Regions from separate parts of the Homo sapiens genome. Here region 1 is linked to region 2. Evidence: fine-mapped expression QTL. Tissue or cell type: whole blood. Region 2 holds a variant in brackets; the other region holds the start of a gene. All regions are shown on one strand. Distances are from middle to middle.

Region 1 (8,167 bases), 20 kb after region 2:
AAAAAAAAGAAAGACAAAAGATTAGTTATGACTAATAAATACAAGTACGAAGTGGCCCTTGGGTCAAGATAAGTCTGTTGTAGACTTTTTTTTTTCCCCTTGAGACATGGTCTCACTCTGTCACATAGGCTGGAGTGCAGTGGCAGGATCACACCACAACCTATCCGGGCTCAAGCCATCCTCCCAGCTCTGGCTCCCAAGTAGCTAGGACTATAGGTGAGTGCCACCACGCCTGGCTAATTTTTTTTTGCAATTTATAGAGACAGGGTTTCGCCATGTTGCTCAGGCTGGTCTCAAACTCTTGGCCTCAATAGATCCTCCAGCCTTGGCCTCCCACAGTGCTGGGATTACAGGTGTGAGCCTTGTTTGCAGAGTTTAGGTCCCAGAGAATATAAAGACACTCAAAGTATCTCAACCTCTTGGAACACCTCTTGGGCATCAAGAACAACGCTACTAGAAATAAGCAGTTTGCCTCTAGAGAAACTTCAAGTAAGCACAACAAAGGGCAAAGTGACACAAGATAACTGTGGAATGCAAGCAAACAGCAGCAGCTGGTCTGTATTTTTTTAAATGGCAAAGTCACAAACAACAGCAACTGCTTTTAGAGTGAGCAGGTAGTTTGCTTTCTTTTTTTTCAAATGGAACTCACTTTTTAAGTGATGACATGCACTTGGGGGTGGGTAGGTGTGAGTTCATTTGTGTTTTGAAATCCCAAATTAATGAGCATGATAAACCGCTATTGCTGGCCCTGTCTGACTCTCTACTCTGAGTAATTGGTGGGTTCCCCCCAACCTTCTCCTAACCCTCACCCTTTTTCCCTTTCCATTGACTTGGGACAGTCCTTGTCAAAGTGCCAATCACAGTGGGAAGGAGGAGAAGGGGGGAGGTCACAGTGCATGGGATTCAAGGTCACAGTGGGCGGAGCAACGGGGATCACCAGGCAAGTAAGTCAAGTTCCCGCTGCTCAAGTCCAGCTGTCTGCCACGGTAGTGCAACCCTTGGCGGACGACCCAGGACGCGTTGACGCGGCAGTCGCGCCATCTCTTCTTGCCTGCATTTATCTGCGCTGTTTGAAGCCGTGTGACCCATCAGGACCCAGAGGCTGTCTGATCACATTATTGGGCTGTCTGCTGTCTTCGGGTTAGGAGATCCTGGTTGGCCTGAAGGGAAGAAGATCAGAGGAAGACCTATCGAGGATGGGTTTCTCCTGCTTCTCCTCGGGTTGGCGCTGCCCAGGATCCGCTTCCTGGCCTCGGTGTACTCGGCTTCCCACTGTGCCAGGGACTTGACTGGAAGGGCGGGCCTGCTAGCGGACTTGGGGCTGCTGACCACACCGTTGCTGGTGGGCCTCTTGAGGATGCGGACCTGTGGAGGGGGTCCCGGGGGAAAATTATCATCCTGAATCACAATGGGCACTTTGGGAGATTTGAATTTCCTGCTTTCTGTGTGATCTTCAGTTTTTTTTCCAGACGTCTATTTCCCCGCTGTCTGCCGTCTCCTCCCAGCTCTCAGCAACCTCCTCATATTCCATCTTACTCGCCACTTTCCAGATCGCTTGCTTTCTTATTTCCACATTTTCTCTGACTTTTGCAGTATTCAATATTATTACCTGATTCTGATTTTTCAGACATCACTATATGGTCCTTGGCTTTTTGGTCGTTCCTCTCATTCCTTTGCTGTTTCAAGCTCTGTTCCCAGCCTAAGCTTTTTACCACCGAATTCTGTTCTGTGACCCATAACTTAAAACTAACCCAACTTTTCATTCCCTCCAGACTTTTTTTGGTAAGCAGTATCATCATGCTTTAGGTGGACACTGAGTCATACTGCTGTGGTAGTGCTGGTACACGTAGTTTTGAATACCAGGTTCTTGAGTGAATCCTTTTTACTTCTCTCTCTCTCCCCCACCCCCGCTTCTCCCTTCTGCCTTCATTTCTGACCCTTCTTTTCTGGTTCCATTAGAAAAGGACTAATCTTATCAGTTCTGCCTTTTTTTTTCTGCTCTAATAATTTTGTCAAGATAATTTTTTCAAAGCACAAGGCCAATGAGAAGGGGGAAAGTCGGTCCAGAAGGCAGCCGGCCCGACTATTCTGAGTTTGAATCTACTCTTGGTGGTCCTGTTAAAATACAGTTTGAAGCAAATCACTTGTTTTTATGCTTCTAATGTCTACTCTGTCGAAAGCCCAAATTTCCTTGCTTGGCATTTAAGGAGACTCCAAGTTCTTAAAACTTCTTCTTGACTTTCATGCAAGTCAAACGGATTTATTTATTGTATCTCAAACAGTCCTCTTATATTTTCCTTTCTGTATTTTTTGATAATTTTCTTGTGCCTGGAATATTCTCTGCTTTTATTTAAGTCTCACCATCTTTCAAGACACAAAATATGTGTGATCTCTGAGGCCTTTGTGAACTGCCTCCAGCATTTACTAAGCAATTAATTCTGTCTCTGAACTTTTATAGCACAAACCCATTCGTTCACTTGATATTTAACAAATATCAACCTCTATCACTTATCTCTTTTTTTTTTTTTTTCTTCTGAGATGGAGTCTTGCTCTGTCACCCAGGCTGGACTGCAGTGGCGCGATCTCCGCTCACTGCAACCTCTGCCTCCCGAGATCAAGCGATTCTTCTGCCTCAGCCTCCCAAGTGGCTAGGATTACAGGCGCCCGCCACGGGGCCCGGCTAATTTTTGTATTTTTAGTAGAGACAAGGTTTCACCATCTTGGCCAGGCTGGTCTCGAACTCCTAACCTCGTGATCCACCCACCTCAGCCTCCCAAAGTGCTGGGATTACAAGCGTGAGCCACCGTGCGCAGCCTATCACTTATCTTTTCATGCTTACATTTTCTCACTGCTTGAGATTTTCTTTCATCCAGGGTCAAGCACTGAGTCTATTAGAAACCCCACTGTATATGATCTGATGAAGATGAGATTATCTTTTTAAAAGCCACATATTAAATCTCTTAAGTTAATAATATTGGCAATCAACTTAAATCAACTGAGTGACCACTATGTTTAAGGAAGTTTCCTTTCTGGTAGGCTGGGAAGCGGGAGAAGGGAAGGATATAACTTTATAAAAAAAAAAAAGCTGCAGAAGGGAAGGATATAACTTTATAAAAAAAGGTCCTTGTTCACAAGGAGCTAATCACTTACTGGCCAGAGAAGAAACGTGTTCCTTCTTTGCAATGGCTGTGTTTTTGGGTTTAGCTAACTCAATTCTTTATGTCCTCAATTTATGAGACCGCATCAAAAACGTTTTTGCCACATCTCTGTGGGAAAGTAGGTGAGTCAGAATGAGTGCATAATATATAAGTATATATTTTAATGATAATGAATGTGTAGATTAACAAACCCAAACTTTGTTTTTGTTTTTTTGAGAGTCTTGCCCTGTCGCCCAGGCTGGAGTGCAATGGCATGATCTTGGCTCACTGCAGCCTCTGCCTCCCGGGTTCACAGGATTGTCCTGCCTCAGCCTCCGGAGTAGAGTAGCTGGGATTACAGGTGACCGCCACCACGCCCGACTAATTTTTGTAGTTTTTAGTAGAGACGGCGTTTCCCATGTTGGCCAGGTTGGTCTTGAACTCCTGACCTCAAGTGATCCACCCGCCTCGGCCTACCCAAAGTGATGGGATTACAAGCGTGAGCCACCGCGCCCAGCCAAACCCAAACATTCTAAAAGCGCAGAGTAACCGCTCCCCTCCCCGCCAACGGTAACCAGCATCTTCGTTCTCCAACCAGAACAGCTGTATGCACCGGTGTATAAGCCTGCCTTAAGTGCTATTTTTAATCTTTTTTAAAAACAGGCCTTAAAATAACTCATTTGGGTACAACTCCAGCGGCTGGTGGAGTGGGCTTAATATATTAAACAGCTGTTAATTTTGGTTTCTTTTTGGTAACAGCGACACGGAGATCCGCATTTGTCGCAGTTTCCACCGCGGGCGGGAAGTGTAAACACAAGAAATACAAACATAGCGCAACGGCTAAAGGAGTGTCACAGCGCCAAACCTTGCTGGCTCCGCGCCAGGCCGAGCCCCACCCTCTCAGCTCGCGGCCAACACCCCCACCCCGCCTCACAGCCCGCCGCGCCCGCGGGGCGACACCCCCCACTCCATCATCCCGGAGGTGGTGCGGCCGAGCCCCGGACCCAATTGGCGGAAGCGGGGCCGGTTGTGTGCGCGCGCACAAATGCCCGGATGCGCCGCGACGACCCGCGCGCTCCCCTCGGGCGGTAGGGGGCGCGCACCGAGGCACCGCGGCGAGCTTGGCTGCTTCTGGGGCCTGTGTGGCCCTGTGTGTCGGAAAGATGGAGCAAGAAGCCGAGCCCGAGGGGCGGCCGCGACCCCTCTGACCGAGATCCTGCTGCTTTCGCAGCCAGGAGCACCGTCCCTCCCCGGATTAGTGCGTACGAGCGCCCAGTGCCCTGGCCCGGAGAGTGGAATGATCCCCGAGGCCCAGGGCGTCGTGCTTCCGCGCGCCCCGTGAAGGAAACTGGGGAGTCTTGAGGGACCCCCGACTCCAAGCGCGAAAACCCCGGATGGTGAGGAGCAGGTACTGGCCCGGCAGCGAGCGGTCACTTTTGGGTCTGGGCTCTGACGGTGTCCCCTCTATCGCTGGTTCCCAGCCTCTGCCCGTTCGCAGCCTTTGTGCGGTTCGTGGCTGGGGGCTCGGGGCGCGGGGCGCGGGGCATGGGGCACGTGGCTTTGCGGAGGTTTTGTTGGACTGGGGCTAGGCAGTCGCCGCCAGGGAGGAGGGCGGGATTTCGGACGGCTCTCGCGGCGGTGGGGGTGGGGGTGGTTCGGAGGTCTCCGCGGGAGTTCAGGGTAAAGGTCACGGGGGCCGGGGGCTGCGGGGCCGCTTCGGCGCGGGAGGTCCGGATGATCGCAGGTGCCTGTCGGGTCACTAGTGTGAACGCTGCGCGTAGTCTGGGCGGGATTGGGCCGGTTCAGTGGGCAGGTTGACTCAGCTTTTCCTCTTGAGCTGGTCAAGTTCAGACACGTTCCGAAACTGCAGTAAAAGGAGTTAAGTCCTGACTTGTCTCCAGCTGGGGCTATTTAAACCATGCATTTTCCCAGCTGTGTTCAGTGGCGATTGGAGGGTAGACCTGTGGGCACGGACGCACGCCACTTTTTCTCTGCTGATCCAGGTAAGCACCGACTTGCTTGTAGCTTTAGTTTTAACTGTTGTTTATGTTCTTTATATATGATGTATTTTCCACAGATGTTTCATGATTTCCAGTTTTCATCGTGTCTTTTTTTTCCTTGTAGGCAAATGTGCAATACCAACATGTCTGTACCTACTGATGGTGCTGTAACCACCTCACAGATTCCAGCTTCGGAACAAGAGACCCTGGTTAGTATTTTTGTCTCGTGTAACTTTTAAGAATAATTTATTTTATGAAGTGATAAACTAAATTTCGTATACCTCAATTGTAGCATGGCTCTGTAAATAAAATTGTATGTGCATAGCTTAAAGTGTGCTACCTCTGGCGTAACTGCGTGGAGTTAAAAACTGTTAAGAACTGGTCAGTATTTTTTTAGCCATTTGCCACATTTGCTTTAAAAATTAGTTCCATTACATTGTTAAGCGTGGTTGAAGTTACGTTTGTTACGTGACTGATTTTTTTTTCCTTTTTGACCTCCCAGTATTTAATTTTTAAAAATGGTTTCTAAAAGTCAAAAAAGTTATTCGTGCTTGTTTTAAAGATTTTTGTCATTAGAGAAATTTTAAAGTAAAACCTGAAAATTCCAGGCTTTTTGCTCCATGTTTCCTTTTAGATTTTTTGTGTGCGTACCCACATATATTTACATTTGAATTTAAATCTATGTTATTGTCCTGTTTGTTGTACTAACAAGATGAAACTGTAGTTGTTCTGTGACTTGCATCCTTGTCAATAAATAAAGTCTACAGAATTCTTTTTAATGGCTGCATAGTATTCCACAGCATGAGTATACCATTTTAAAAATTATTTATGCCTTTACTGATAGGTTTTTAAAAATTGCCTCCTGTTTTTGAGTATTACAGATAGTGCCGCTTTGTACATGCATCCCGTGTGACTATTTCTGTAAGAAAGATTTTATAGAATTATAGGCTGGCCTCGGTGGCTCACCCCTGTAATCCCATCACTTTGGGAGGCCAAGGCGGACCGATCACCTGAGATGAGGAGTTCAAGACTAGCCTGGCCAACATGGTGAAAACCTGTCTCTACTAAAAATACAAAAATTAGTCGGGCATGGTGGCGCGCGCCTATAATCCCCTGCTGAGGAGGCTGGGGCAGGAGAATCGCTTGAACCCAGGAGGCAGAGGTTGCGGTGAGCCAAGATTGCGCCATTTCACTCCAGCCTGGGCGATAAGAGCGAAACTCCGTCTAAAAAAAAAAAAAAGAAAAGAAAAAGATTTTAGAGAATTAGAACTCCTGAGTTCTCAATTTTACTATTTGATTGCTACTGGTAACTTGCTCACCAAAAGGCTCTAACAGTTTCACTCCTGCCAATACTGAATATCACCAATCTTTAATTATTATTATTATTATTTTTTTTGAGGCGGAGTCTTGCTCTGTCTCCCAGGCTGGAGTGCAGTGGCACAATCTCGGCTCACTGCAATCTCCGTTCCCCGGGTTCACGCCATTCCCCTGCCTCAGCCTCCCGAGTAGCTGGGACTACAGGCGCCCACCACCACGCCCGGCTAATTTTTTGTATTTTTAGTAGAGACGGGGTTTCACCATGTTAGCCAGGATGATCTTGATCCCCTGACCTGGTGATCCGCCCGCCTCGGCCTCCCAAAGTGCTGGGATTACAGGCGTGAGTCACTGCGCCTGGCCTCTTTTATTATTATTACTATTTTTTTGATAAAAGGTACTGTACCATTGTTTAAATTCATTTTTCTCTAGTTTCTTGGTGAGGCTGGGCACCTTTCCTTTTTGTTTTTGTTTTTGTTTTTTTTGAGACAGAGTTTCACTCCTGTTGCCCAGGCTGGAGTGCAATGGCGAGATCTTGTCTCATTGCAACCTCTGCCTCACGGGTTCAAGCGATTCTCTTGCCTCAGCCTCTGGAGTAGCTGGGATTACAGGCATGCGCCACCACGCTCAGCTAATTTTGTATTTTTAGTAGAGATGGGGTTTTTCCATGTTGGTCAGGCTGGTCTTGAACTCCCAACTTCAGGTGATCTGCCTGCCTCGGCCTCCCAAAGTGCTGGGATTACAGGCGTGAATCACTGCACCAGGCCTCCATTTTGTTAAGTCATTTATTTCTTCTGGGACTTGCCTAGTCTTATCTGTCCATTTTCCTTTTAGTTTTTTAAAATTTTTCTTAGTAATTGGAGTAGCTCTATGTGTTTCAAGTATATTTAACTTTTGTTGTTTACTAATGTAGCATTTAATTTTATGTTGTCTTTTCCCCATTGAGAACAATTCTGTGAAGTAAAATTTGTTGGCTTTTGAATTTCATATCATGCTTTGGAAGAACTCTCCTGTCCCAAGATCTTGCAAATATATTCCTATATTTTCTTCTAGATTTAAATTTTTTAAATATTTAGATCTTCACCTGTAATTTACCTTCTTGTTCTTCAATGTAAGATTACAAATGCTATTATCTTTTATAGCTGTTTTCTCATTAATACATGTCTTTTAAGTCACTAATATACTGATGGCTTTCCATTACAGATTTTTTTTTTTTTTTTTTTTTGAGACTGAGTCTTGGTCTGTTGCCCAGGCTGGAGTGCAGTGGCATGATCTCGGCTCACTGCAACCTCTGCTTCCTGGGTTCAAGCAATTCTGCCGCAGCCTCCCGAGTAGCTGGGATTACAGGCACCCACCTCCACACCCGGATAATTTTTGTACTTTTAGTAGAGATAGGGTTTCACCATGTTGTCCAGGCTGGTCTTGAACTTCTGACCTCCTGATCTGCCTGTCTTGGCCTCCCAAAGTGCTGGGATTAAAGGCATGAGCCACTGCGCCTGGCCCACACCTGGGTAATTTTTGTATATTTAATAGAGACGGAGTTTCACTGTGTTGGCCAGGCTGGTCTCACACTCCTGACCTCAGGTGATCTGCCTGCCTCGGCCTCCCAAAGTGCTGGGATTACAGACCTGAGCCACTGCACCTGGCTTCCATTACAGATTTTTACTTTGAATTATTTTATCTAATTTGAAGCTAATATAGCATATAATAAAAATT
Region 2 (8,199 bases):
GCTTCCTCTCAGCCCGCTCTCACCCACTCCACCCATTCCAATACACAGGCACTGGGTGAAGGACGGAACTTAGCTCAAAAGGTCTCTATCGCTTGAGGTCGGGCTTGCTCCTTCGTGGTAGGCATTCCATCATCTGGATTGCAACAGAACTGCAAACCACATTGCTTTCTAAGAGACTAAACCCAAGAGACTAACCCCAGTCCAGGGCGTAGCCACCTGCCTCTCAGCCCTAATTACAGACTGTACCTTCTGCTCATGAAGGAGCCCTGCTCTAACTTCTGGGAATTATATGGTTGCATTAAGGTATGGACACATTCCTTTTCTCTCTCGACACCAAAAAGGATACTATATCTGCTTGATCAATAGTCTACCTCTGACTTTAAAGTACTTACTAGAGTATAAGTTCCACAAGGGCAGGATCTTGTCTGTTTCTGTTTACCTTCGTATCCCCAGTACTGGCACAATGCCTGGTTCTTAGTATGTGTTCAATAATTATCTGTTGAATAAATGATTAAGTGAGTGATTTAACTGGACACGAAAACAGGCATATCAGCTGGGTGCAGTGGCTCACACCTGTAATCCCAGCACTTTGGGAAGCTAAAATGGGAAGGTCACCTGAGCCCAAAAGTTCAAGACCAGCCTGGGCAACATGGCAAAATCCTGTCTCTACAAAAAATACAAAAATCAACCAGGCATGGTGGCATGCACTTGTGGTCCCAGCTACTCAGGAGGTTGAGGTGGGAGGATCACCTGAGCCTGGGGAGGTCAAGGATGCAGTGAGCCATGATTGTGCCACTGCACTCCAGCCTGGCTGACAGAGTAAGAACCCATCTCAAATAAAATAAAATGGGTATATCAGTATAGTGAAAAAATTAATCATCCATTTGGTCTTTTATTCACTATTCCACAGATTTTATTGAGCACTGATTATGTCAGGCACTCTTTTCTTTTTTTTAGATAGAGTCTCGCTCTGTTGCTCAGGCTGGAGTGCAGTGGTGTGATCTCAACTCACTGCTACCTCTGCCTCCTGGGTTCAAGTGATTCTCCTGTCTCAGCCTCCCAAGTAGCTGGGATTACAGGTACCTACAACCATGCCCAGCTAATTTTTGTATTTTTAATAGAGATGGGGTTTCACCACGTTGGCCAGGCTGGTCTCAAACTCCTGACCTCAGAAGATCTGCCCGCCTTAGCCTCCCAAAGTGCTGGGATTACAGGCATGAGCCACTGCACCCGGCTGCCAGGCACTCTGAAATGCTAGGAATACAAAATTATTAGGCAAAGCAATCTAACCAAGGGGACTTTCCCAACTAATTAGACTCAAAGAAATAGTCTTTTATTCAGTCAGGAGCATGAGTCCTGCACACAGCACCCCGTATTATACTCTGAAAATTAGGAAGAAGTGGAAGATAGTGCCTTTCACCACAGAGCTTTCAATTTAGAGGCCAAAGAGCATGGCCAAATATTAAAAAGTTATGCAAGGACACAGATATGAACAAGGAAATATTAACGTACCACCAGCTGTACCAAAATGCTGCAGTTCTCTGAGTAATCAAGTGATCATTACTCATGGTATCTCAGTCAGATTTCAGACTAGCAAGATCAACCTTGCTAGTCTCTCTTTTAGGAACTCAGTTCTTTTCCTTCTAATGCCTCATCCCAGTTTGCAATTATATATTTATTTGCTTCTTGTATTTCTCCTTTACTATACTGCAAGCTCAAAAAAGGCACAGGTTATATATGTTTTAATCAGGCTATATTTTAAATGCCTTGCACTGTGCCAGTAAATATTCGTTAAATATATGAATTGCTGGGTATGATGGTGTGAGCCTGTGGTGCCAGCTACTTGAAAGGCTGAGGTGGGAGGATCGCTTCAGCCCAGGAGTTCAAGGTTGTAGTGCACTACAGTCATGCCTCGAATAGACTTTGCACTCCAACCTAGCCAACATAGCGAGACCCTATCTCTAAAAGTAAATGAATTAATTAATGAATTAAGGGTCACAGCCAAATTCATGCTTAAAATATTTTGATACTTGGCCAAGAGGATAGTGGCAGTAAATCAATAAACTGGTTGATGGTGAACTTCTTTTTTGTTGTTGTTGCGGGGTTTTTTTGTTTTTTATTTTTTGAGACAGGGTCTCTGACCCCCAGGTTGGACTACAGTGGCACAATCACAGCTCATTGCAGTCTCAAGCCACCTTCCTGGGCTCCGGCAATCCTCCTGCCTCAGCCTCCCAAAGCACTGGGATTACAAGCATGAGCCATCCCACCTAGCAATGATGTGTGTACTTGTGACATGATGCATAGGATTTACCTTTCCACACTCAGCTAAATAACTGTTTCAATTTTGCTAGGAAAGTTCTGGTCTAGTTTGGTCTGGACTCTAGTTTACTTTTCTTTCTTTTTAACCTTACTTACTTTTTATTTTATTTTTATGTGTTTATTTTTTGAGACATAGTCTCGCTCTGTCACGCAGGCTGGAGTGCAGTGGCACGATCTCGGCTCACTGCAACCTCCACCTCCCAGGTTCAAGCGATTCTCCTGCCTCAGCCTCCCGAGTAGCTGGGACTACAGGCGTCTGCCACCACGCCCGGCTAATTTTTGTATTTTTAGTAGAGACGGAGGTTTCACCATATTGGCCAGGCTGGTCTCGAACTCCTGACCTCGTGATCTGCCCACCTTGGGCTCCCAAAGTGCTGGGATTACAGGCTTGAGCCACCGCGCCTGGCCTAACCTTACTTACTTTTTAACTGTGGCAAAGACTCTAGTCTTCTTTTAAGAGTAACTACAATTTACTTTTTAAAATTATTAAATAATTTTCTATCATACTTTTATGTGCTGTGTTTTATGGATTATGTGTTTTATGTGCTGAATTTATGTTTTTAAATCACTTTTTAAGTTATCTGCATCACTTTTAAGCAAGGTGGTGAGAGATAAAAACCATGTCGCTTTACTTTTAAAGTGAATGACCGCCTCTAAGCTTGAAAACATCACAGTTAGACTGTGTCATTTTCTGGTCTTTAGGTGGAGCCACTGCTATTGCAGGTTTCCTAAACCTAAACCTATTTATAGAGAAATTCCTCTTCAGTCATTTTATAACCAAAGCCTCTTGTAAGTATTTAACATTACATTTTAGCTCAGTGAATTTCACTATATAGGAAAGATCCTGAGAGAACTAACAATATAAAATATGTAGCCAATTCATACATATTTTAACATTCAGAAATACTACTTATTAGAATTTGAATTTATTTCTCAGACTTTTCTGAGAGGTTAGAAGGGCCCTGTTGTGTTTAACCCAAAGACCAGTTCAAAAACTAGGGAAGGAGCTGTTTAAGAGGAAGGAATGACTAACGTCTGAAGGTCAGAGGACTAAAATCCTGGTGATTGAACAAGTTGCAACACATGGGTTTTCCCTCTAAAAAAACAAAACAAGCCGGGCAAAAAAAAAAAAAAGAAAAAAACAAACAAAAAACATTCTGTGCTGGCCCCAGTAATTACTTGTACCCTTGCTCTTTCATTTCCTCTTCTAATGATAAAGGAAGCTGCAGTTGCTCAACTTGTGAACTGAAAACATGGGACAGCAATGACACAGGAAAATGGGCAAGTCCAGGCAAAAGCCC[G/A]TGCGGTGGCCAGAGTCCGGGCCTGCCTGCTTTCCCATCATTTTCCTTTCCCATGTTTGTTCTTTTCTTCTTTTCGCCTTGATTTCTTATCGTGTTCCTTTTTTTTTTTTTTTTTGAGATGGAGTTTCGCTCTGTCACCCAGACTGTAATTCAGTGGCACGATCTTGGCTCACTGTAAACTCCTCCTCCTGGGTTCAAGCAATTCTTCTGCCCCAGCCTCCCAAGTAGCTGGGATTACAGGCGGGTGTCACCATGCCTGGCTAATTTTTGTATTTTTAGTAGGCACGGGGTTTCACCATGTTGGCCAGGCTGGTCTCGAATTCCTGACCTCAAGTGATCCACCTGCCTCAGCTTCCCAAAGTGCTTGGATTACAGGTGTGAGCCATCACAACCGGCCTGTTACATTTTTTTAAAAAATATTTTCCACCACCCCTTTTTCCTTGTATCACACCTCTCCTTTAAGCCCACAAGTTAAAGCATTGATGAACACTTCTACTTCAACTTGGGAATATTAATACAAAAAAAAGACCCAGCACTCACTGAAGTACAACACAAAGCAAATCCCTTTTACTACAAATTCCTTTTTCTACAGCTCTTTCCAATGGATTTAAATTGTTCTTAAATGAAATTTTTAAACATATAAAATTGGGAAACATTTTAATTTTCATAGAGACCTATAAATCCATGTTTTCCCAAATTTAGTCCTGTCGAGGGTATGGGAAAACAAGTACCATCTTACATTCATCATGAGACCATAAATTGCATAGCCACAAAAATGCTCATGCCCTGTAACCCAGAAAATCCACTTTCAGGAGTTTATCCTAAGAAAGTAAAGATGTGCAAAAAGATTTTCTTTGTAGATGGGGTCTCACTGTCACCATGGCTGGAGTGCAGTGGCAAGATCATAACTCATTGCAGCCTCAAACTTCCATGGTCAAGCCATCTTCCTACCTCAGCCTCCTGAGTAGCTGAGACTACAGGCTTATGACACCGAGTGTGCCTAAGTTTTTTATTTTTTTTTTAATTTTTTTGTAAAGACAAGGTCTCTCTTTGTTGCCCAGGCTAGTCTTGAGCTCTTGGCCTCAAGTGATTCTCTGGCCTCAGCCACCTGAAGTACTGGGATTACAGGTGTAAGCCACCACGTCCAGCCCTGCATAAAGATTTTTGTGCAGAGAAGTTTATCACAGCATTATTATTATTATCATTTTTAGAGACAGGGTCTTGCTCTGTTGCCCAGGCTGGAGTGCAGTGGTGCGAGTATAGCTCACTGCAACCTCCAACTCCTGGGCTAAAGCAATCCTCTTGCCTCAGTCTCCTAAGTTGGTGTGCACCATCAGGCTGAGAAACATTATTGATAATAGCAAAAAAAATAGGAAAGCAACTAAATGTCCAACAGTTCTTGGTCCACCCGTCCATGTGACTCACCAGTCTTCTGGAAAGGCCTGGGATTTTTAACCTTATGCTTGCCACCTAAACCTCTGCTGGATGAGTGAGGCCCTAGAGATCAATAGACCTCTCTAGTTAATGATTACTAGTCTTCTCCCATTTCTAAGTACACACAGCTTGGTTTCCCCACCTTTATCAACATGCTGCTTAGAACATCTAACTATTTTCAATTGCAACTCCTTCCACCTTCCACTGTAAGAACTATAGTTTTTGGGCTGGGCGCGGTGGCTAACGCCTGTAATCCCAGCACTCTGGGAGGCTGAAGCGGGTGGATCACCTGAAGTCAAGAGTTTGAGACCAGCCTGATCAATATGGTGCAACCCCGTCTCTACTAAAAATACAAAAAAAACCAAATTAGTCAGGTGCGGTGGCATGTGCCTGGGTGACTGTCTCAAAAAAAAAAAAAAAAACAAGAACTATAGTTCTTGTTTTGTTTTGTTTTTTGAAACAAGGTCTTGCTCTGTCACCGAGGCTGGAGTGCAGTGGCACCATCACGGCTCACTGCAACCTCGAACTCCCTGGCTCAAGTGATCCTCCTACTTCAGCCTCCTGAGTAGCTGGGACAGTTTCTTTTAAAAATTATGATTATTGGCTGGGTGCGGTGGCTCACACCTATAATCCTAGCACTTTGGGAGGCCGACGCAAGTGGATCATGAGGTCAGGAGATCGAGACCATCCTGGCTAACACAGTGAAAACCTGTCTCTACTAAAAATACAAAAAATTAGCCGGGCATGGTGGTGGGCACCTGTGGCCCCAGCTACTCGGGAGGCTGAGGCAGGAGAATGGCGGGAACCCGGGAGGTGGAGCTTGCAGTCAGCCAAGATTGCACCACTGCACTCCAGCCTGGGTGACAGAGCAATACTCTGTCTCAAAAAAATAATAATTAAAAAAATTTAAAAATTATGATTATCGTATTCCCCAGGGCAGAGCATCCAAGTTAATAGGCACTTAGCAAGTTTTTATTGAATGAGTGAATAAATGAATGAGATGTTTACAATCTGCCTTGAATATAATTAGCTCTACTTCAAATTGTCGGCCTATAATCCCTCAGCAGAAACAAATCATTTACATAGTAATCCCATGGGGAAGAAAATGACTGTGATTCATAACATTTAAAATTTTAAACAAAACAACAGCAATGATGTGGTCATCTATTCATTCAACAAATGTACTAAGTACCTTCTATGGACCAGATGCGAAAGCCCTGGAGATGGAATCATAGAATTAGAAATTAAGAAAACTGTATGGATTATGCCTATAATCCCAGCACTTTGGGAGCCCGAGGCGGGCGGATCACCTGAGGTCGGGAGTTTGAGACCAGCCTGACCAAAGTGGAAAAACCCCATCTCTACTAAAAATACAAAACTAGCCAGGGGGGAGGGGGGTGGCGCGGTGGTGCATGACTATAATCCTAGCTACTCAGGAGGCTGAGGCACAAGAATTGCTTGAACCCAGGAGGCAGAGGTTGCAGTGAGCCGAGATCACGCCATTGCACTCCAGCCTGGGCAACAAGAGCAAAACTCTGTCTCAAAAAGAAAAAAAGAAAAAAAAAACTGTATGGATTAAGATGTTTAAACAATTAAAGAGGCCAGGCATGCATGCCTGTAATCTCAGCACTTTACGGGGCTGAGACAGGACTGCTTGAGCCCAAAAGTTTGAGACCAGGCTGGGCAACACAGGGAGATCCTGTCTCTACCAAAAATTTAAATATTAGCCAGGTGTGGTGGCGCTTACCTACAGTCCTAGCTACTTGGGAGACTGATGAAGGAGGACTGCTTGAGCCGAGCCCAGTAGGTTGAGGCTGCAGTGAGCTGTGATCGTGTCACTTCACTCCAGCCTGGGCAACACAGCAAGACTCTATCTCAAAAAATTTTCTTAAAAAGGCTGGATGCAGTGGCTCACATCTGTAATCCCAGCATTTTGGGAAGCCAAGGTGGGCGGATCACCTGAGGAGTTCAAGACCACCCTGGCCAACATGGTGAAATCCACTAAAAACACAAAAATTAGCCAGGTGTGGTGGTAGGTGCCTGTAATACCAGCTACTAGGGAGGCTGAGGCAGGAGACTCACTTGAACCCAGCGGGTGGAGGTTGCAGTGAAACGAGATTGCGCCACTGCACTCCCGCCTGGGTGACAGACCGAGACGCCGTCTTAATAATAATAATAATAATGTTAAAAAAATTAAAGAGACTGATTTATACACTGGAATATCAGTTCCTTAATTTGGAAGGTGGATCTACCTAAACAATGCATTTCCCCTCCATGAGCATCTCCTTTGCATCAAGGTACCTGTGAAATTAGATAGGTTAGCAGGAAGTTTATTTATTTATTTATTTTTGTTTTTTTTTTGAGACAGAGTTTCACTCTTGTTGCCCAGGCTGGAGTGCAATGGTGCGATCTCGGCTCACTACAACCTCCATCTTCCAGTTTCAAGCGATTCTCCTGACTCAGCCTCCCAAGTAGCTGAGATTACAGGCACCCACGTAGCTGGGATTACAGGCACCTGCCACCACGCCCAGCTAATTTTTGTATTTTTAGTAGAGATGGGGTTTCACCATGTTGGCCAGGCTGGTCTCAAACTCCTGACCTCGTGATCTGCCCACCTCAGCCTCCCAAAGTGCTGGGATTACAGGCGTGAGCCACTGCGCCCGGCCTGGTTAGCAGGAAGTTTTTAAGGACCATATAATCAGAGGTAAGGGAGTAGACTAATTTAGGAAGCTATTTCTTTCCAGCTATGGAAAGGCCTAGAAATTTTTATGTATTTTTCCAGTGAATTGATTATTCCTATGCTAGACAATCATGATCAAATTCTTACTATTTAATTGCCCTACTCCCTGTTTTTTTGAGACAGGATCTGGCTCTCTCACCCAGGCTGGAATACAGTGGTGAGGTCATAGCTCATTGCAGCCTCGGCCTCCCAGGCTCAAGTGATCCTCCCATCTCAGCCTCCTGAGTAGCTGGGACCACACACATGCACCACCATGCCTGGCTAATTTTTTTATTTTTGTAGGGATGGCATCTCCCTATGTTGCCCAGGCTGATCTTGAACTCCTGGGCTCCAGCAATCCTTCCACCTCAGCCTACCAAAGTGCTGGGATGACAGGTGCAAGCCACTGCACCTGGCCTAATTCTC

Evidence for each region. PIP is the estimated chance that this variant, and not a neighbour inherited with it, causes the effect.
Region 1: MDM2 starts here. The variant in region 2 is fine-mapped to the expression of MDM2 in whole blood (TOPMed, PIP 0.96).

What each region holds. Positions count from the first base shown.
Region 1 is chr12:68,803,947-68,812,113 of GRCh38, forward strand. MDM2 (MDM2 proto-oncogene) reads left to right here and starts at 4,231. Exons shown (of 11, transcript NM_002392.6): 1 at 4,231-4,545; 2 at 5,262-5,346. The coding sequence starts at 4,532. It also overlaps the pseudogene SZRD1P1. RefSeq lists a silencer at 3,929-4,318 and enhancers at 4,520-5,719, 4,819-5,208.
Region 2 is chr12:68,784,122-68,792,320 of GRCh38, forward strand. No RefSeq gene overlaps it. Among named protein-coding and RNA genes, the nearest start is that of MDM2, 20 kb to the right of the region's middle. RefSeq lists enhancers at 3,124-3,678, 3,679-4,232. The variant G/A (reference allele first, on the strand shown) is at 3,621.